Homo sapiens: one gene and its partners. The protein of the gene in region 1 purifies or fractionates together with the protein of each later gene. This does not show direct contact. Each region holds a gene or a part of one and is shown in the gene's direction. Other genes may lie near its edges.

Evidence for each region.
Region 2: the proteins of SLC35F2 (region 1) and TEX264 purify together in Homo sapiens (affinity purification with mass spectrometry; 2 studies listed by BioGRID and IntAct, with this or other methods). This does not show direct contact.
Region 3: the proteins of SLC35F2 (region 1) and POMK purify together in Homo sapiens (affinity purification with mass spectrometry; 4 studies listed by BioGRID and IntAct, with this or other methods). This does not show direct contact.

What each region holds. Positions count from the first base shown.
Region 1 is NC_000011.10:107,806,750-107,813,791, reverse strand, and holds part of SLC35F2 (solute carrier family 35 member F2), read left to right. Parts: intron 1-1,997; coding exon 1,998-2,125; intron 2,126-6,915; coding exon 6,916-7,042.
Region 2 is NC_000003.12:51,702,227-51,704,840, forward strand, and holds the end of TEX264 (testis-expressed protein 264), read left to right. Parts: intron 1-1,497; coding exon 1,498-1,790; 3' UTR 1,791-2,097; downstream 2,098-2,614. UniProt on the Homo sapiens protein: Major reticulophagy (also called ER-phagy) receptor that acts independently of other candidate reticulophagy receptors to remodel subdomains of the endoplasmic reticulum into autophagosomes upon nutrient stress, which then fuse with lysosomes for endoplasmic reticulum turnover.
Region 3 is NC_000008.11:43,117,490-43,123,951, forward strand, and holds the end of POMK (protein O-mannose kinase), read left to right. Parts: intron 1-4,617; coding exon 4,618-5,388; 3' UTR 5,389-5,945; downstream 5,946-6,462. UniProt on the Homo sapiens protein: Protein O-mannose kinase that specifically mediates phosphorylation at the 6-position of an O-mannose of the trisaccharide (N-acetylgalactosamine (GalNAc)-beta-1,3-N-acetylglucosamine (GlcNAc)-beta-1,4-mannose) to generate phosphorylated O-mannosyl trisaccharide (N-acetylgalactosamine-beta-1,3-N-acetylglucosamine-beta-1,4-(phosphate-6-)mannose).

The sequences.
Region 1 (7,042 bases):
TTGGGAGGCTGAGGTGGAGGATGGCTTGATCCCAAGAGGCTGAGGTTGCAGTGAGCCAAGATCACACCACTGCTGTCAAGCCCAAATGACAGACCAAGACCCTGTCTCCAAAGGAAAAAAAAGAAGAGTTGGGAGTGGAACTGTACATGGTTAATAACCCTGGACTTTGCTCTTTGTGGAAGCATTGGCCTTCAGGAATTTGGTGAGACTCCCAAATGTATCAGTGCAGTTAGTCTCCCTAAGGGATGGTTGTTAGGTGCTTCCTATGCCATTTGATGCTGAGGAAGACTAATTCTGTGTTTTTGTTTTGTTTTTTGTTTTTCTTCTGAGACGGAGTTTCGCTCTTGTTGCCCAGGCTGGAATGCAGTGGCACGATTTCAGGTCAATGGCACAATCTCGGCTCAGTGCAACCTCTGCCTCCTGGGTTCAAGCGATTTTCTTGCCTCAGCCTCCCTAGTAGCTGGAATTACAGGCACCTGCCACCACGCCCAGCTAATTTTTGTATTTTTAATAGAGATGGGGTTTCTCCATGTTGACCAGGCTGGTCTCGAACTCCTGACCTCAGGTGATCTGCCCACCTCAGCCTCCCAATGTGCTGGGATTACAGGTGTGAGCCACCGCACCCGGCCTAATTCTGTGTTTTCAAGATGTTCCTGCTAACTGGATTTTACTGATAATTATTTGGTTATGATTCTCACTACTTTTATTTATTTGTGAGTTATCTTGCCATAAAACCTTCTCATATATGTGCCAACTCTGCATCTCCTGTGATGACAGATTCTCCAAAGTAGTGAATCCAATTAATTTGAATACATATAATTTGGAGGAATAAAAGGTGTTTCTTCAGTGTGCACTAAGCCTTTTCTCAAGCTTATCGAGGACTTAATTTTCACTTGAAAGCACACCTCTTCCAAAAGAATGATCACCTGCAGACTTTTCTTTGAAGAAGCCCATGAATAGAAGTTAAATAACCAATTAATTTCTAGGAAAACATTTCATTTCCTAGGATAGTCCGTGGCTTGTCAGAAGTGGCGACATACAAGCTCATATCCAGAAATTTTGTTTCTGTTATGATAGGAAAGGGATTTTAAAAAAAAACTATTTTATTTTTTTAAGTTCCAGCATACATGTGCAGAATGTGCAGGTTTGTTACATAGATAAACGTGCCATGGTGGTTTGCTGCAGCTATCAACCCATCACCTAAGTATTAAGTCCAGCATGTATTAGCTCTTTTCCTTAATGCTCTTCTCCCGCCCTGCCCTCCCTCTTTTTTTTCTTAAAGAGGTGGAGTCTCATTATGTAAGCCCAGCTGGTCTTGAAATCCTGGGCTCCAGCTGTCCTCTGCCCTCACCTCAACCTCCTGAGTAGCTGGGATTACAGGTGCACACCACTGTGCCCATTTGGGAAAGGGAATTTAACCACTTTTCTCTTACTTTCATTCTGGTGCTTTTATTGAACACTTGGTCTCTGATGATACTTTAACTAGGGTTTCATGCTAGAAAAAAATCTAACTCTGGTGAGCTGTTGCAGGAGTTTGGGTTATGAAGAATGGAAACTAGGAGGGGGCCACATTAGAAATACACAATAGCCAGGCGTGGTAGCTCACGCCTGAAATCCCAGCACTTTGGGAAGCTGAGGCAGGCAGATCACTTGAGCTCAGGAGTTCAAGACCAGCCTGGGCAACATGGTGAGACCCCCATCTCTGCTAAAAATACAAAAATAATTAGGTGGGTATGGTGGCGTACGCCTGTGGTCCCAGCTACTCAGGAGGCTGAGGTGGGAGGATGGCTTGAACCCAGGAGGCAGAGGTTGCAGTGAGCCGAGATTGTGCCACTGCACTCCAACCTGGGCAACAGAATGAGACCCTATCTCAAAAAGAAGAAGAAGAAAAAAGAAAAAAAAACAAGAAACTCTTGCTTCTACTCTTTTATCTTCAAATCAACATGTATGGTATCATTTGCAAGTAACATGTACTAACCCATATTTCTTTCAACCAGGCAGTGATAACCTTTTAGTAATCTTGAAAAGAAAATGGTGGAAGTACATCCTGCTGGGACTAGCAGATGTGGAAGCTAATTATGTGATCGTCAGAGCCTACCAGTACACAACTCTAACCAGTGTCCAGGTAAGAGGGAGCCCTCTGACCACTTTGGATTTTATAGCTTCAAAAGAAGAACACGAAGTCATATGTGTTGACCTAATTTTATTGAAAATCTATTCACTTGAAGAAAACCTAAACACAGGTGGATGCTGTTTTCTAGTAGAGCATATGCTCTAATGAGTAATGTTTCCTAGAATTAGTGAAAATGTATACAACTTAAGCTGCCCCCAAACTGCTATGGCAGATTAGAACAGTTCCTACCAAATAAGCATAAATATTTAGTTGGCAGTTGATGCTGTGGTGTTGACACGTGTTCTGTTTTATATGCTGCTCAAACATGGCATATGAAAGTATACCTTTGTTCTATAGGAAAGTTGAAGCTTTGCAAGCATAGTAGATATTCATGACAAAGAAACCATTGGAAGAAACCCAGTAGACATTTTTGGGAGAGGTGGTAGCCAGAGTTAAAACTCCCATCCCTATTTCTTTGTTAGGTTTATTCTTGCTGCATTGAAAGAAAAATATTCCTACATTGCAGAGGTTTTCAACTTTGTAAAGTTGAAGACAACTGATTTCAGTTGTCTTAATGTTAGCAAACTATGGGATGTTTCCTAACACTGACTCACCATTACTGACTACAAAATGTTTTATAAGTGGAGGTGAAAGTGAGATAGACTCAAATGCCAGGTTTAGATGTCACAGTTTGTTTATAACTTTTTTTTCATTTTTTTAAATAATAAAAAAAAGTGTGTATCAGATGTGGGATTTGAAGTTTATAACTTTTTGATATGTCCCTTTCTCACTATACAAAATACAGAGATGTTCTTACTTGACTCCAAATTTTAGGGACTGGAAAAATTGAAATTAGACTTATTTCGCATAGAAAATATAAGGATTGATGAGAACTCAGTATTTTTCCAGTGTGAACCTACATTAAATGTTACTACCATTATATTAACTACTTTCTTTTCTGTAACATTGTGCTAAGCATTGTTCTCAGGAAACCTCTTGGATTTTGACCAGTATGGGTTAAAAAGCTGAGATAGGAAATGATTTATTAAGACAGACACTATAGGAGGCACAAAAAGAACCTAAAGTTTCGTAAAAATTAAACCCAGCAGTTACCTAGAGAATGAAGTTTATCACTAATAGGAGTAAGTGTACTTTTAGCGTTGGTTAATGAAGTATACATAAGTATGTAGAAAATGGTATTTTCTTGTCACATCTACTCTCATAATCTCACCTACATTTTAATTACTTGATTACAATTCCCAGGAACTTTGATCTCTAACTAATGATAAAAAGTTTTGAATTGGTGCAAGGCCTAAACACAGTTAAACAGAACACTTACAGTTGGATAGTTGCGACTGAAGTTCATGCCTTCTTTCAATTTCAAAGAAATTGAAAACAATTTCTTTCACGCTAGCCTCTTAGAAAAACCTAAGCATTTGGTTGCCAAAAGTCATGCACTTACGGTCCTAGCAAAGAATATATTATAAAAAAGGCATCTAACAAGGTAATGTTTTCTCCAGCAGCAGCGACAGCTGTGATAGGAATGATTCAAGCTGGTTCTCCAACTGAGTAAATCTCTGGCCTGGGTAGTCCAAAAGGATGGAAATCTGGATTAGGTGGTCTTTGAACCTTCTTCTTAAGGATTCCTTAGAAGGTTCTGTAATTACCAACAGTCATGGGATAGTTCACGTGAAGATGATGATGTGGCCCAGGTTGCTGCTCATGTCCCTTCCCACTTTACTGCCACATCAACCCATTTCCCACTCATGGCCTGCTCCTTCTCCCCTGTGCTGCTCTGTTCTTCCTAGAATGCAGTCCTTTTTGAAGCCTGCTCCCCTCATTGTCAAAGGTTAATTCAATTTTCATTTTCTCTTCTATACTCTATTGTACCTCTAATATGATCTAACTTGTTTTTATACCCATGTCGCAGGGTCTGTCTTAGTACTCTGCTTACTGTGACTATACAATAATTTTTAAAAATAAAATTGATACTCTTCGAACTGAAACAGAGAAGACATCCATCACCAAGAATACTTTTTTTTTTTCTGAGAAGGAGTCTTGCTCTGTCACCCAGGCTGGAGTACAATGGCATGATCTTGGCTCACTGCAGCCTCCGCCTCCCAGGTTCAAGTGATTCTCCTGCCTTAGCCTCCTGAGCAGCTGGGATTACAGGCACGCGCCACCACACTTGGCTAATTTTTTTTTTTTTTTTTTTTTTGAGGTGGAGTCTCATTCTGTCACCGAGCTGGAGTGAAGTGGGATAATCTTGGTTCACTGCAGCCTTGGCCTCCTGAGTAGCTGGGATTACAGGCATGCGCCCAGCTGATTTTTTTTTTTTTTTTTTTTTTTGTATTTTGAGTAGATACGAGGTTTTGCCATGTTGGCCAGGCTGGTCTCGAACTCCTGACCTCAAGTGATCCTCCGGCCTTGGCCTCTCATAGTGCTGGGATTACAGGCATGAGCCACCACTCCCGGCCACCAAGAATACATTTTGAAAAGAAGGTTCACATGACTAAAGGTGATAGATATCAGATGAGAAGTCATGGAATGTTAGAGTCGGAGGGAAACTGTGTGATCATTTCGTCTGATCTTTTTATTTTATATTTTGACTTGGAGAGTGACTGGCTGGGGCCACACAGCTAGCTGGTCAGCGTGGGGCCGGGGCCTGAGGTTTCTGGAGCTCTGATCATGACATAGGCATCTCCCTCATTGCCCAACAAAAGTTGTTAAAGATAGAGCAAATTTAAGTTTGATTTTAAGACACAAGGGACTCTTCTGTGGTAGTTCTTAGAATGTCTTTTTCTACTTTTTTTGTTTAAGGAATGTAGTTGAGATTTTGTTAAGCCGTTATGGCTGGATTCTGCTGGTGTCTTCAGGGACAGGGTATTATCATTTGCATCGTTTAATGTTTTGTTATTCAGGCAGGCTCAATAAAGCACTTAGGAGATTAGAGTTCTGCAGCTGGAATAAATAACAAGGCAAGATGCCCATTCCTACACATGATGCGTTGGACTCCACTGATGCTACTGCAGTGAAAGGCAATCAGTAAACAACTGTGGACAGGATCGAATGGGCTGTTGGAGATTTAGGGGCCTGTCTTGTTCAAGACCAAACAGATACAGAGAGAATCAGGGACAAGGTTTGAAACAACAAAAGGGTGAGCAATAAAACAGCAGTTTCGGGAATATTACTGGTATAAGGAATATATTTCTTCCTTGAAAGAAATACATTGGAATGCATCAAGAATCTCTTGAATATATTTTATCCTTGAATGCACATTAAATTTGTGAATTTAAGAATTGAGTGAGTGCACTCTCTTTTTTATCTTTTATCTTGCAAACAATTTTGGACCTGCTGTAATTTTGGCACACTTAATCCCTCTGCCTTCCAGATGAGCAATATCAGGTGTATAGCTAGTGTTTTCTGGACCCAGTATCAACAGGTGAGGGGGAGCATGTGAGGAGGATGAGCAAGAGTATTTGCCATGAGCACGAGTGTGTCTCACATGGTGGGGTTGGACGCTTTGTCAGGGAGATGGTGTCTGTTCTCTCACAGTAACCCATGCTTCTTTGTAGCGCTTAGCCCGATTCCAGTGAAATATCTGGTGGTGTGATTATTTATTCCATGTCCTTTCTAGCTTTGTGTGCTCCTAAGGACACAGCTTGCTCTGTCCTGTTCACCGCTATTCCTAGCTCCTTTCACAGTGTCTCACACATGCAAGGTGTTTAACAAATATTTGTTGACTGAGTAAATGGTTGCAGGTAGGAAGGAATGTTTGTCTACTGAACTTAAAGATATACACAGGGCCAGGCGTGGTGGCTCACGCCTGTAATCCCAGCACTTTGGGAGGCCGAGGCAGACAGATCACCTGACATCAGGAGTTCGAGACCAGCCTTGCCAACATGACAAAACCCCATCTCTACTAAAAGATACAAAAATTAGCTGGGCATGGTGGCAGATGGCTGTAATCCCAGCTCCTTGGGAGGCTGAGGCAGGAAGAATTGCTTAAACCCGAGAGGCAGAGGTTGCAGTGAGCCGAGATTGCACCACTGCGCTCCAGCTTGGGCAACAGAGCGAGACTCCATCTCAAAAAAAAAATAATAATAATAAAATAAAAGAAAAGATATACACAGGTGGGAGCATAGAGGTAAAGTGCACAGGCCCTCAGCAGAATTCTTGTATACAGCAACTGACTCTTCCATTGTATTTTATTATCTATTCATTTATTTTGAGACAGGGTCTCTCTGGGTTGTACAGCCTAGAGTGCAGTGGCACCATCACAGCTCACTGCATCCTTGAACTCCGGGCTCAAGTGATCCTCTCACCTTAGCCTCCCAAGTAGCTGGGACTACAGGAGTGCACCACCACACCCAAGGTTTTTTTTTGTTGTTGTTTTTTTTTTTTTTTGTACAGACAGGGTTTCACCATGTTGCCCAGGCTGATATCGAACTCCTGGACTCAAGCAGTCTGCCCGCCACAGCCTCCCAAAGTGCTAAGATTACAGGCGTGAGCCACCGTGCCCAGCTGTCATCCCATTTTTAACTATGTGTTTTTGGCAACTCATTTCACCTCTCTGTATCTTCATTTTCTCATGTATAAAATTGGATTGTAATTTCAGTCTCATGGAATTGTGAGGATTAAATGAGTGAATCCAGGTAAAGCTCTTAGTACAGGGCTGGCAATAATAAATGCTCAATAAATACTGACTCCTATTATAAATACTGACTCCTATTATTTCTTAATTACCCATCTTTTAGCTAATGAGAGATATGTTTTAAACTGTTGATTCTCTTTCCATGCAGCTTTTGGATTGCTTTGGGATTCCTGTGTTGATGGCTCTGTCATGGTTTATTCTTCATGCAAGATACAGAGTGATCCACTTCATCGCCGTGGCTGTCTGTCTGTTGGGTGTAGGAACCATGGTTGGTG
Region 2 (2,614 bases), on another chromosome or scaffold:
TATTTAAGGAGCAGTGAGGGCCTGGCATCCTGTCCCCTGGTCAGAAGAAACTACCCAAAACTTAAAGCTCCCCCAGCTCCCTGACCACCTCATTCACAGGCTTCTGTCCTGGGAGCCACACCTGGGGCCTCAGCAAGAGGAGGGCCCTGGGCCAGCAGCCTGGGCTTCTAGGGCTCACCTCACCTCTGCCAGTAGCGCCCAGAGGGCATATTCTGGGGGCTGAGTGGGTGGTGGGGGTAGGGAGAGACCCCAAATTCCCCCCTCTCCTAATTCTCCCACCCCCAACCTAGGCCCCATTTGAGGCTCAAGGAAAGCCCCAGGCTGAGTCCAGGCGCCAAGCAGACCCCAGCTGCACCTGGCTTGGCTCCAACACCATGGAGACAGTGGCTGGGGAAGCTGGCTAACCCCTCACCTTCTGTGATGTTTGACAGCTGACCCTCTCCCCATCATACAGGAAGGGTAGCAGATCCACTTTCTCCCAGTCTGGATTCCTGCACACAGCGAGCCTGAGCCATGTGTTCCTCCTTGCCACCCCAGCCTGCATTCAGTGCCTCTGATCCAGGGAGATGAACCCAGGGGTTGCTCCTGGACAGGGCAGATGAAGGGGCTGCTTGCTTGGAGGATGTATTGGGGGTGGAAGGAGCAGGTTAGAAGGAGTTTGGGCCATCAACCTGGCTCAGCACTGGTTTGGGGCACCCCAACCACCAGCAGAGTGCTCTCATCATCCCCTTTTGCTATCTTGTGGCTCAGGAAGCACCAGTCATTGGGGGTGGGGTGGGTAAGGGTTTCTCAGGGTCGACCCAGGCATAGGGAGAGAAAACCCTTAACATGTTTCATCCCAGCACCCTCCTCCTTGCAGCTGGTTGAGTATTTCTCAGGCCTTCTCCATCCTCCTCGTACTTCAGCTCCCTCCTCAACTGGGACTTGGTGTGTACCAGAGGCAGGGGCCTGCTGACTCCCTGGATGCTGCTCCTGGGAGCCCTGCACGGGGGAGGGCTGCAGAGGGGCCTCCTGCTGCATTCTGCAGTCCTCGTGCCCTGTGGGTGATGTTCTGTAGCTGGCCCTGGACACATCTCTTTCCAAGCTTGAAGTGGGGGTGGGGGAAGGTGGAGAGGACACTACTTGTGTCTCTTTGTTCTACCTCAGCTCCTCACCTCAGGGCTGAGTGGCCCTTAATAAATGTGGGGGGAGGGCAGCAGGCTTTGTGGAAGTGCAGGGAGCTGAGGCTAATTTAGAGTGGGGAGAAGAGTGCACAGCTGCCTCCTCCCACCCTCTCTCCCTCCCTCCCTCCTTCCCTCCCTCCCTTCCTCCCAGCTCTTTCCCTCTGCCCTGTCTGTGCAGCCCCAGTCAGGGTAGAGGGCAGAGGGCAGCTGGAGCAAGCCCCCTGAGCCCGGGAGGCTGCATTATTCATGAGTGCACTGCGTGCTGAGTTGCCTCTCCCTGGAGGAGGGGGTGGGGTGGTCCTAGCTAACCTGTGCTCCCTTTTCCTGGTCATAGGAGCTGACACAATGAGTGACACGAGTTCTGTAAGCTTGGAAGTGAGCCCTGGCAGCCGGGAGACTTCAGCTGCCACACTGTCACCTGGGGCGAGCAGCCGTGGCTGGGATGACGGTGACACCCGCAGCGAGCACAGCTACAGCGAGTCAGGTGCCAGCGGCTCCTCTTTTGAGGAGCTGGACTTGGAGGGCGAGGGGCCCTTAGGGGAGTCACGGCTGGACCCTGGGACTGAGCCCCTGGGGACTACCAAGTGGCTCTGGGAGCCCACTGCCCCTGAGAAGGGCAAGGAGTAACCCATGGCCTGCACCCTCCTGCAGTGCAGTTGCTGAGGAACTGAGCAGACTCTCCAGCAGACTCTCCAGCCCTCTTCCTCCTTCCTCTGGGGGAGGAGGGGTTCCTGAGGGACCTGACTTCCCCTGCTCCAGGCCTCTTGCTAAGCCTTCTCCTCACTGCCCTTTAGGCTCCCAGGGCCAGAGGAGCCAGGGACTATTTTCTGCACCAGCCCCCAGGGCTGCCACCCCTGTTGTGTCTTTTTTTCAGACTCACAGTGGAGCTTCCAGGACCCAGAATAAAGCCAATGATTTACTTGTTTCACCTGGATTTGGGTTGTGTATTTGTTTGTTCTGCCTTGGTTGGGGGCGGTGGGGGGATGGCTGTACAGATAGGCTGGGAGTGGGAAGGAGCCTCCCCTCCCCAGGACAAAGAATGGAAGGAACATGGCAGGTACCCTGGGGTTGGGGGAGGAGGGGAGTTAGAGATCCTCCACGTCCTGCTCTGTGACCCCAGTGGCCAGCTGCCCCTCCATTGCAGCTGCCAGAGAGCAAGCAGAGCCTGGCTTGGGTGAGAGCTGAGTATGGGGTGCCCTTCAGGGCTCAGGAATGGGGAGCTCACAGCCTGTCTTCATCTGCCTCCAAGGGATGCCTTTGTGTCTGTGACTAGTGTGCCTGCACGCTGGTACTTCCCCAGTAGGCGAGGCTCCCCCACTGTGCCTGCCAGTGGCTGTGTACCTGTGTGTGTGCATGTGCACCCACGCTCATGCATTTGGCTCTGTGTAACCACGGATGGATGGGGCTGCTTGGGTAAAGCTGTGCCCAGGTGAGCATCAGGGTATGATTGT
Region 3 (6,462 bases), on another chromosome or scaffold:
GTAAAGGCAGAAGAAAATCTGTGTGTAAGTGGAACTGCGCAGTTCAAACCCGTGTTGTTCAAGGGTCAAGTATATATAAAGAGCTCCCAGTAATTAATAAGCACAAGGCAGACAACCCTATAGAAAATTGGATAAAGGACAGTGAACAGACTTTTGACAGCAGAAATACAGAAATGCCTAAAAAGATGACAAATGCCTAGCCTTATTAGTAATCAGGGAAATACAAATTAGAAGAGTAAGGTATTTTCATCCATTGATTGGCACAAATTACAAACAGTGGTAATAATCTGGTGTGACTAAGGGTGTATTCCTAAGATTCTATCATGCGCTGCTGGTGAAAGTGCATGCTAGCACAGACTTTGGAGGGTAATGATGGCAATAGATATTTGGTAAATTCTGTCTGCCTACCTAGCTTATAAAATATTTGTGCATGTACATAGACATGTAAATATAAGGCTATACACTGTAGCATTGTCATTAGAAAAGGGACTAACTTAAATGTCCAGGTCTTTAGAAATAGATCATATAAGATCTTATTAAAGGTCTTTACAAAATTATAGCTACATAATAATCTTAAGAAAGAATCCAGTCTATTTTGACAGCATCAATTCCAAATTCCTGGTATTTTTATTATATTATACTTTAATTTTAAAGAAAAAAGGTAGTAGTATCTGTAAAAGCTTACTGGAAATACACAAGTGTAGGTATTATGCCCACACTATGAAACATTACTCAGCTTTAAAAAGAATGGCCTAGATCTACATGTATATATGGAAAGGATTTCTGAGGCTCAGTTAAATGAAAAAAGAGCTGCAATGTATGTATGTTATAACGCCATTAGTATAACAGCAAACCCAAATGCTGTTTTACAAGTGTACATTAATAAATAAAGGCATAGAAAAACTTCTGGGAGGATGACAGCCAGTTACCAGGTTTCCTTTGGGTCGGGAAGTAAAACTGGGGGCAGGGAGACATCCTGCCTATCCTCTGTATTTGAGTTTTTACCAAGAAAAGTGTTCACGATTAATTTTATAATAAAAAAGTAAAGTATTTTAACTGTTCTTTCCAAATAAAAGTCTTTTAGAAAATGATTAAAAGCAACTAAATTAGAGGTTGTGAGAAATGATTCTTAAACAGTCCATGACTAGCAAATTTTTTATATTGGAGGATTCAAATATTTGTGTGTGATCTCAAAGACTAATAGTATTTCATAATAATATTTAATAATCTTCATTTATCTGAAACAAAAATGAATGAGACACAAATGAGGGATCAGGAGCCCTGGGGCCTGTGGCTGAGCCTCCCCAACTTACTGTTTTTTTTGTTGTTGTTGTTACGGAGTCTCGCTCTGTTGCCCAGGCTGGAGTGCAGTGGCCTGATCTCGGCTAACTGCAAGCTCCGCCTCCACGGTTCATGCCATTCTGCCATTCTCCTGCCTCAGCCTCCTGAGTAGCTGGGACTACAGGCACCTGCCACCATGCCCGGCTAATTTTTTGTATTTTTAGTAGAGATGGGATTTCACCATGTTAGCCAGGATGGTCTTGATCTCCTGACCTCGTGATCCACCCGCCTCGGCCTCTTGAAGTGCTGGGATTACAGGCATGAGCCACTGCGGCCGGCCCCCCACTTATTGTTGAATGTGTAGCAGCAGCTTCCCAAAAGCCAGCATCGTTTTTAGGTGAAAAATGGGCCTAGAAAACCAAAGCCATTGCCAGTTCTGGTGGTGACCATGCAGAGGTGGGCGTAAGGAAGCCATGGATCTGAACAAAACCTCAGTTGTTCGTATTAGAGCCAATTATCAGATTCAGTGGGATGCAAATCTATGGAGAGCGTGTGTTCAATATGAAAATTTAAAAAAATCTTGAACTTTTAGAATGTGGTCTTATCTAGTCCTTAAAAATTAGGAAATTTTTAGTGCATGTAGCAGCCAGAGTGAAAAACAGCTTTTTTTTTTTTTTTTTTTTTTTTGAGACGAAGTCTCTAACCAGGCTGGTGTGCAGTGGTGTGATCTTGGCTCACTTCAGCCTCTGCCTCCTGGGTTCAAGCAATTCTCCTGCCTCAGCCTCCTGAGTAGCTGGGACTGCAGGCGCGCGCCACCACGCCCAGCTAATTATTTTGTATTTTTAGTAGAGATGGGGTTTCACCATGTTGCCAGGCTGGTCTCGATCTCCTGACCTTGTGATCCTCTTGCCTCGGCTCCCAAAGTGCTGGGATTACAGGCGTGAGCCACCGCGTCCGGCCCAAAAACAGCTTTTTAATAGAAGTTATTATCCTTAGTGAAATTTCTCAAATATGAGGATTAGAGAGTCTTGAAAGAGTTTTCATTTGAATGTTATGAGCCAATCAAAGTTATCTGGGTTTTTCCATAATGAACCTCCCTTCTTAGATCCAGAAAAGATCTTCATGGTCCTTGGGTCTAACTCCATTTTATATAATATTTCTTTTTCTTTTTTTTTTTTTAAATTCCCAATGTTAGTTTTTCTGAAATTTTATATATTTTTGAGTTAAAAAATTTAAGTTGTAAAAGTAATATATGTTCATCTTGGAAAATACCAAAAGATATGAAGGAAAAAAAAATCACCCAGAATCTTACCACATAAAGACAACTAAGGCATTAGCATATTTCCTTTGATTTCCATGTGCTGTAATTTAAATTTGTCTCGTTTTATGCAGTTGGAACAATATTATACAAATGGTTTTGTATACTTCTCATTTGTAACATTGCTTTTTTTTTTTTTGAGATGGAGTTTCACTCTTGTTCACCCAGGCTGGAGTGCAATGGTGTGATCTTGGCTCTCTGCAACCTCCACCTCCTGGGGTTCAAGCTACTCTTCTGCCTCAGCCTCCTGAGTAGCTGGGATTACAGGCATGCACCACCATGCCCGGCTAATTTTGTATTTTTAGTAGAGGTTTTAGGTTTTAGGTTTCGTCATGTTGGCTAGGCTGGTCTCCAACTCCTGACCTCAGGTGATCTGCCTGCCTTGGCTTCCAAAAGTGCTGGGATTATAGGTATGAGCCACCGCACCCAGCCGTACCATTACTTTTATCTGTTATAACTGTATAAATATATACATTTTGGTGACCGCATGATATATATATATATTGAATGATCCTCCCACCTCAGCCTCCCCTGAGTAGCTGGGGGTACATGTACGCTCCATTACACCCTGCTTGTTTCTTAATTTCTTTCTTTTTTTTTTTTTTTGAGACAGAGTTTCACTCTTGTTGCCCAGGCTGGAGCACAGTGGCGTGATCTTGGCTTACGGCAACCTCTGCCTCCCGGGTTCAAGTGATTCTCCTGCCTCAGCCTCCCAGGTAGCTGGGATTACAGGCATGCACCACCACGCCTGGCTAATTTTGTATTTTTAGTAGAGTCAGGGTTTCTCCATGTTGGTCAGGCTGGTCTTGAATTCCTGACCTCAGGTGATCCACCCGCCTTGGCCTCCCAAAGTGTTGGAATTACAGGTGTGAGCCACCACGCCTGGCCCACCCTGCTAGTTTCTAAAAAATGTTTTGTAGAGATGGGTTCTCACTATGTTGATCATGCTGCTCCCATCTTTTGATAAGTTTCAGTGTATGCTTTTATAAATAATGTCAGATTTTTATTCCTGGAGCTTCTTACCTATTTCCGATTATTGCCTTAGATTTAGATGTTAGAGTCTCTTGATAAATAATGCAAAAAACTGCTTTGGAAACCATAACCTTTATTTGAACAATGACATGGCACACTGCTTGCAGAATGAGCCTGGGGCAGGAATCTCCTGAGTCCTGAGCCTGCTTTCTCTTTTGTAATCTTCTGCCTTCTCTTGGGATTTAAGCAAAAGATCAGAGGTTCTTCCTTTAATTACAGTGCTTCCTGCAAGCAAATGAAAGGTGAAAATCCAAGGCAGAAATGTGAACTTGCTCTTCTATTAGCTGTGGACTCTATGAGAAGGTCTAGTGTTTATGTAGCATTTCAGCTCCTGCCTTTACAGCTGAAGTAACACCAAACCACAGAACATGCAAAAATGTTTTCCTTACATATAAATGTTCCTATTTATGATTTACTATGCCACCTTTTAAAATTAATGAGTAACATTGTTACACGTGATGGGCAGGGCTCTACGCCCTCATGTAGGCTTTTCGGGGTCTCCACACTTACCCACTTTTCCAGTCCACTCCCCTGCCTCCTCTTCCTCCCCACCCACTGTGTGGTGGTCCATTGGAACTGGCAGTCTACTTGCCACTCCTCCCTGCCATGCAGTTATATGGAGTCTTCCCTCCTGAGCTAGCACTCCCCTGCCCTACATTGAATCTGCAGGTCCCCCTCGTTCTATGAGACCAGCTTCCCAAAGCCTTCCAGCACCCTCTGCAGCAGCTCTCAGTGTCCTGCCCAGAGGCAATCGCTTCCTGCCCTGAGGTTCCACCCACTAATGTGGCACTTGCCTTGCTGAATGCTGTGTTTGCTCATCGGTCTCTCTTCATAACTAGACGGAGAGCAACTCTACGATGGGGTCTGCACCTTGTTAATTTCTGTATCTTCTGCAGAACACCTGCCACTTAAAAGATATTTGTTGTTCTTTGGTCACTAAATTAGGTGAGAGTTCAGGCCTGATGCTCTCTATGGCTTTGTTGCAGGTCTTTCTGTCTGAGTGGAAGGAGCACAAAGTTGCACTCTCACAGCTCACCAGCCTGGAGATGAAAGATGATTTCCTCCATGGACTGCAGATGCTGAAATCTCTCCAAGGCACACATGTTGTCACGCTGCTTGGCTATTGTGAGGATGACAACACTATGCTTACTGAATATCACCCTCTAGGTTCCTTGAGTAACCTGGAAGAAACACTAAACCTTTCAAAGTACCAAAATGTGAACACGTGGCAGCACAGGCTGGAGCTGGCCATGGACTATGTCAGCATCATTAATTACCTGCACCACAGCCCTGTGGGCACACGGGTCATGTGCGACTCCAACGACCTGCCGAAGACACTGTCCCAGTATCTGCTAACAAGCAACTTCAGCATTTTGGCAAATGACTTGGACGCCTTACCCCTGGTGAACCACAGCTCCGGGATGCTGGTGAAGTGCGGCCACAGGGAGCTGCATGGGGATTTCGTGGCTCCAGAGCAACTGTGGCCCTATGGAGAGGACGTGCCTTTCCACGATGATCTCATGCCCTCATATGATGAGAAGATTGACATTTGGAAGATCCCAGACATCTCCAGTTTCCTTCTGGGGCACATTGAAGGGAGTGATATGGTCCGATTCCATTTGTTTGATATTCACAAAGCATGCAAGAGCCAGACTCCCTCAGAAAGACCCACTGCCCAGGACGTTCTGGAGACCTACCAGAAGGTCTTGGATACACTTAGAGATGCCATGATGTCTCAGGCAAGAGAGATGCTGTGAAAACCAGTCCAGCCAATGAAGGTGGGATTGAAGGGCTGAATGGAAGTTACAGCATTCTACTCTGATGGTGGAGTTTTTTGCCTGAGTTTCGTGTTTTATTGTTTTTTTTATGGCTTAGCCATGTGGTTCGTTGTCCACATCCACATGTACGTTTGTATGTAGTCCACATTGGTTGTTAGATTTTTTTTTTTTTCTTTGAGATGCGGTCTTGCTCTGTTGCTGAGGCTGGAGTGCAGTGATGTGATCTTGGCTCACTGCAGCCTCTGCCTCCCAGGTTCAAGCAATTCTCCCACCTCAGCCTCCTGAGTAGCTGGGATTACAGGCACACCACCACGCCTGGCTAATTTTTGTATTTTTAGTGGAGGTGGGGTTTCACCATGTTGGCCAGGCTGGTCCCGAACTCCTGACTTCCTCGGCCTCCCAAAGTGTTGGGATTACAGGCATGGGCCACTATGCCTGGCCAGTTGTTAGATTTCCATGGATTTGTAGTTTCCAAAGTTTCTCGTTATTGATTTCTACTTTTCTTCCATTGTGGTCTGAGAAGGTACTTGATATGATTTAGATTTTTAAAAATTTATTGAGACTTGTTTTGTGGTCTAACATATGGTCTATGCTGCAGAATGGTCCATGTGCTGATGAGAAGAATGTATATTCTGCAGCTGTTGGAAGAAAGGGTCTGTAAATGTCTGTTAGGTCCATTTGGTCTATAATGCAGATTAAGTCTGATGTTTCTTTCTAGATGATCTGCCCAATACTGAAAGTGAGGCATTAAAATCCCCTGCTTTTTTTTGTATTAGGATCTGCCTCTCTCTTTAGCTCTAATAGTGTTTGTTTATACATGTGAGTACTTTGGTATTGGGTGCATATATATTTAAAATTGTTACATCCTTTTGCTGAATTGATCCCTTTTTCATTATGTAATGATCTTCTTTGTCCCTTTTTATGTTTTCTGACTTAGTCTATTATGAATAAGTATAGCTACTCCTGCACATTTTTGGTTTAAATTTGCACGGAATATTTTTTTCCATCTGTTCACTTTCAGTCTATATGTGTTTTTACATGTGAAGTGAGTTT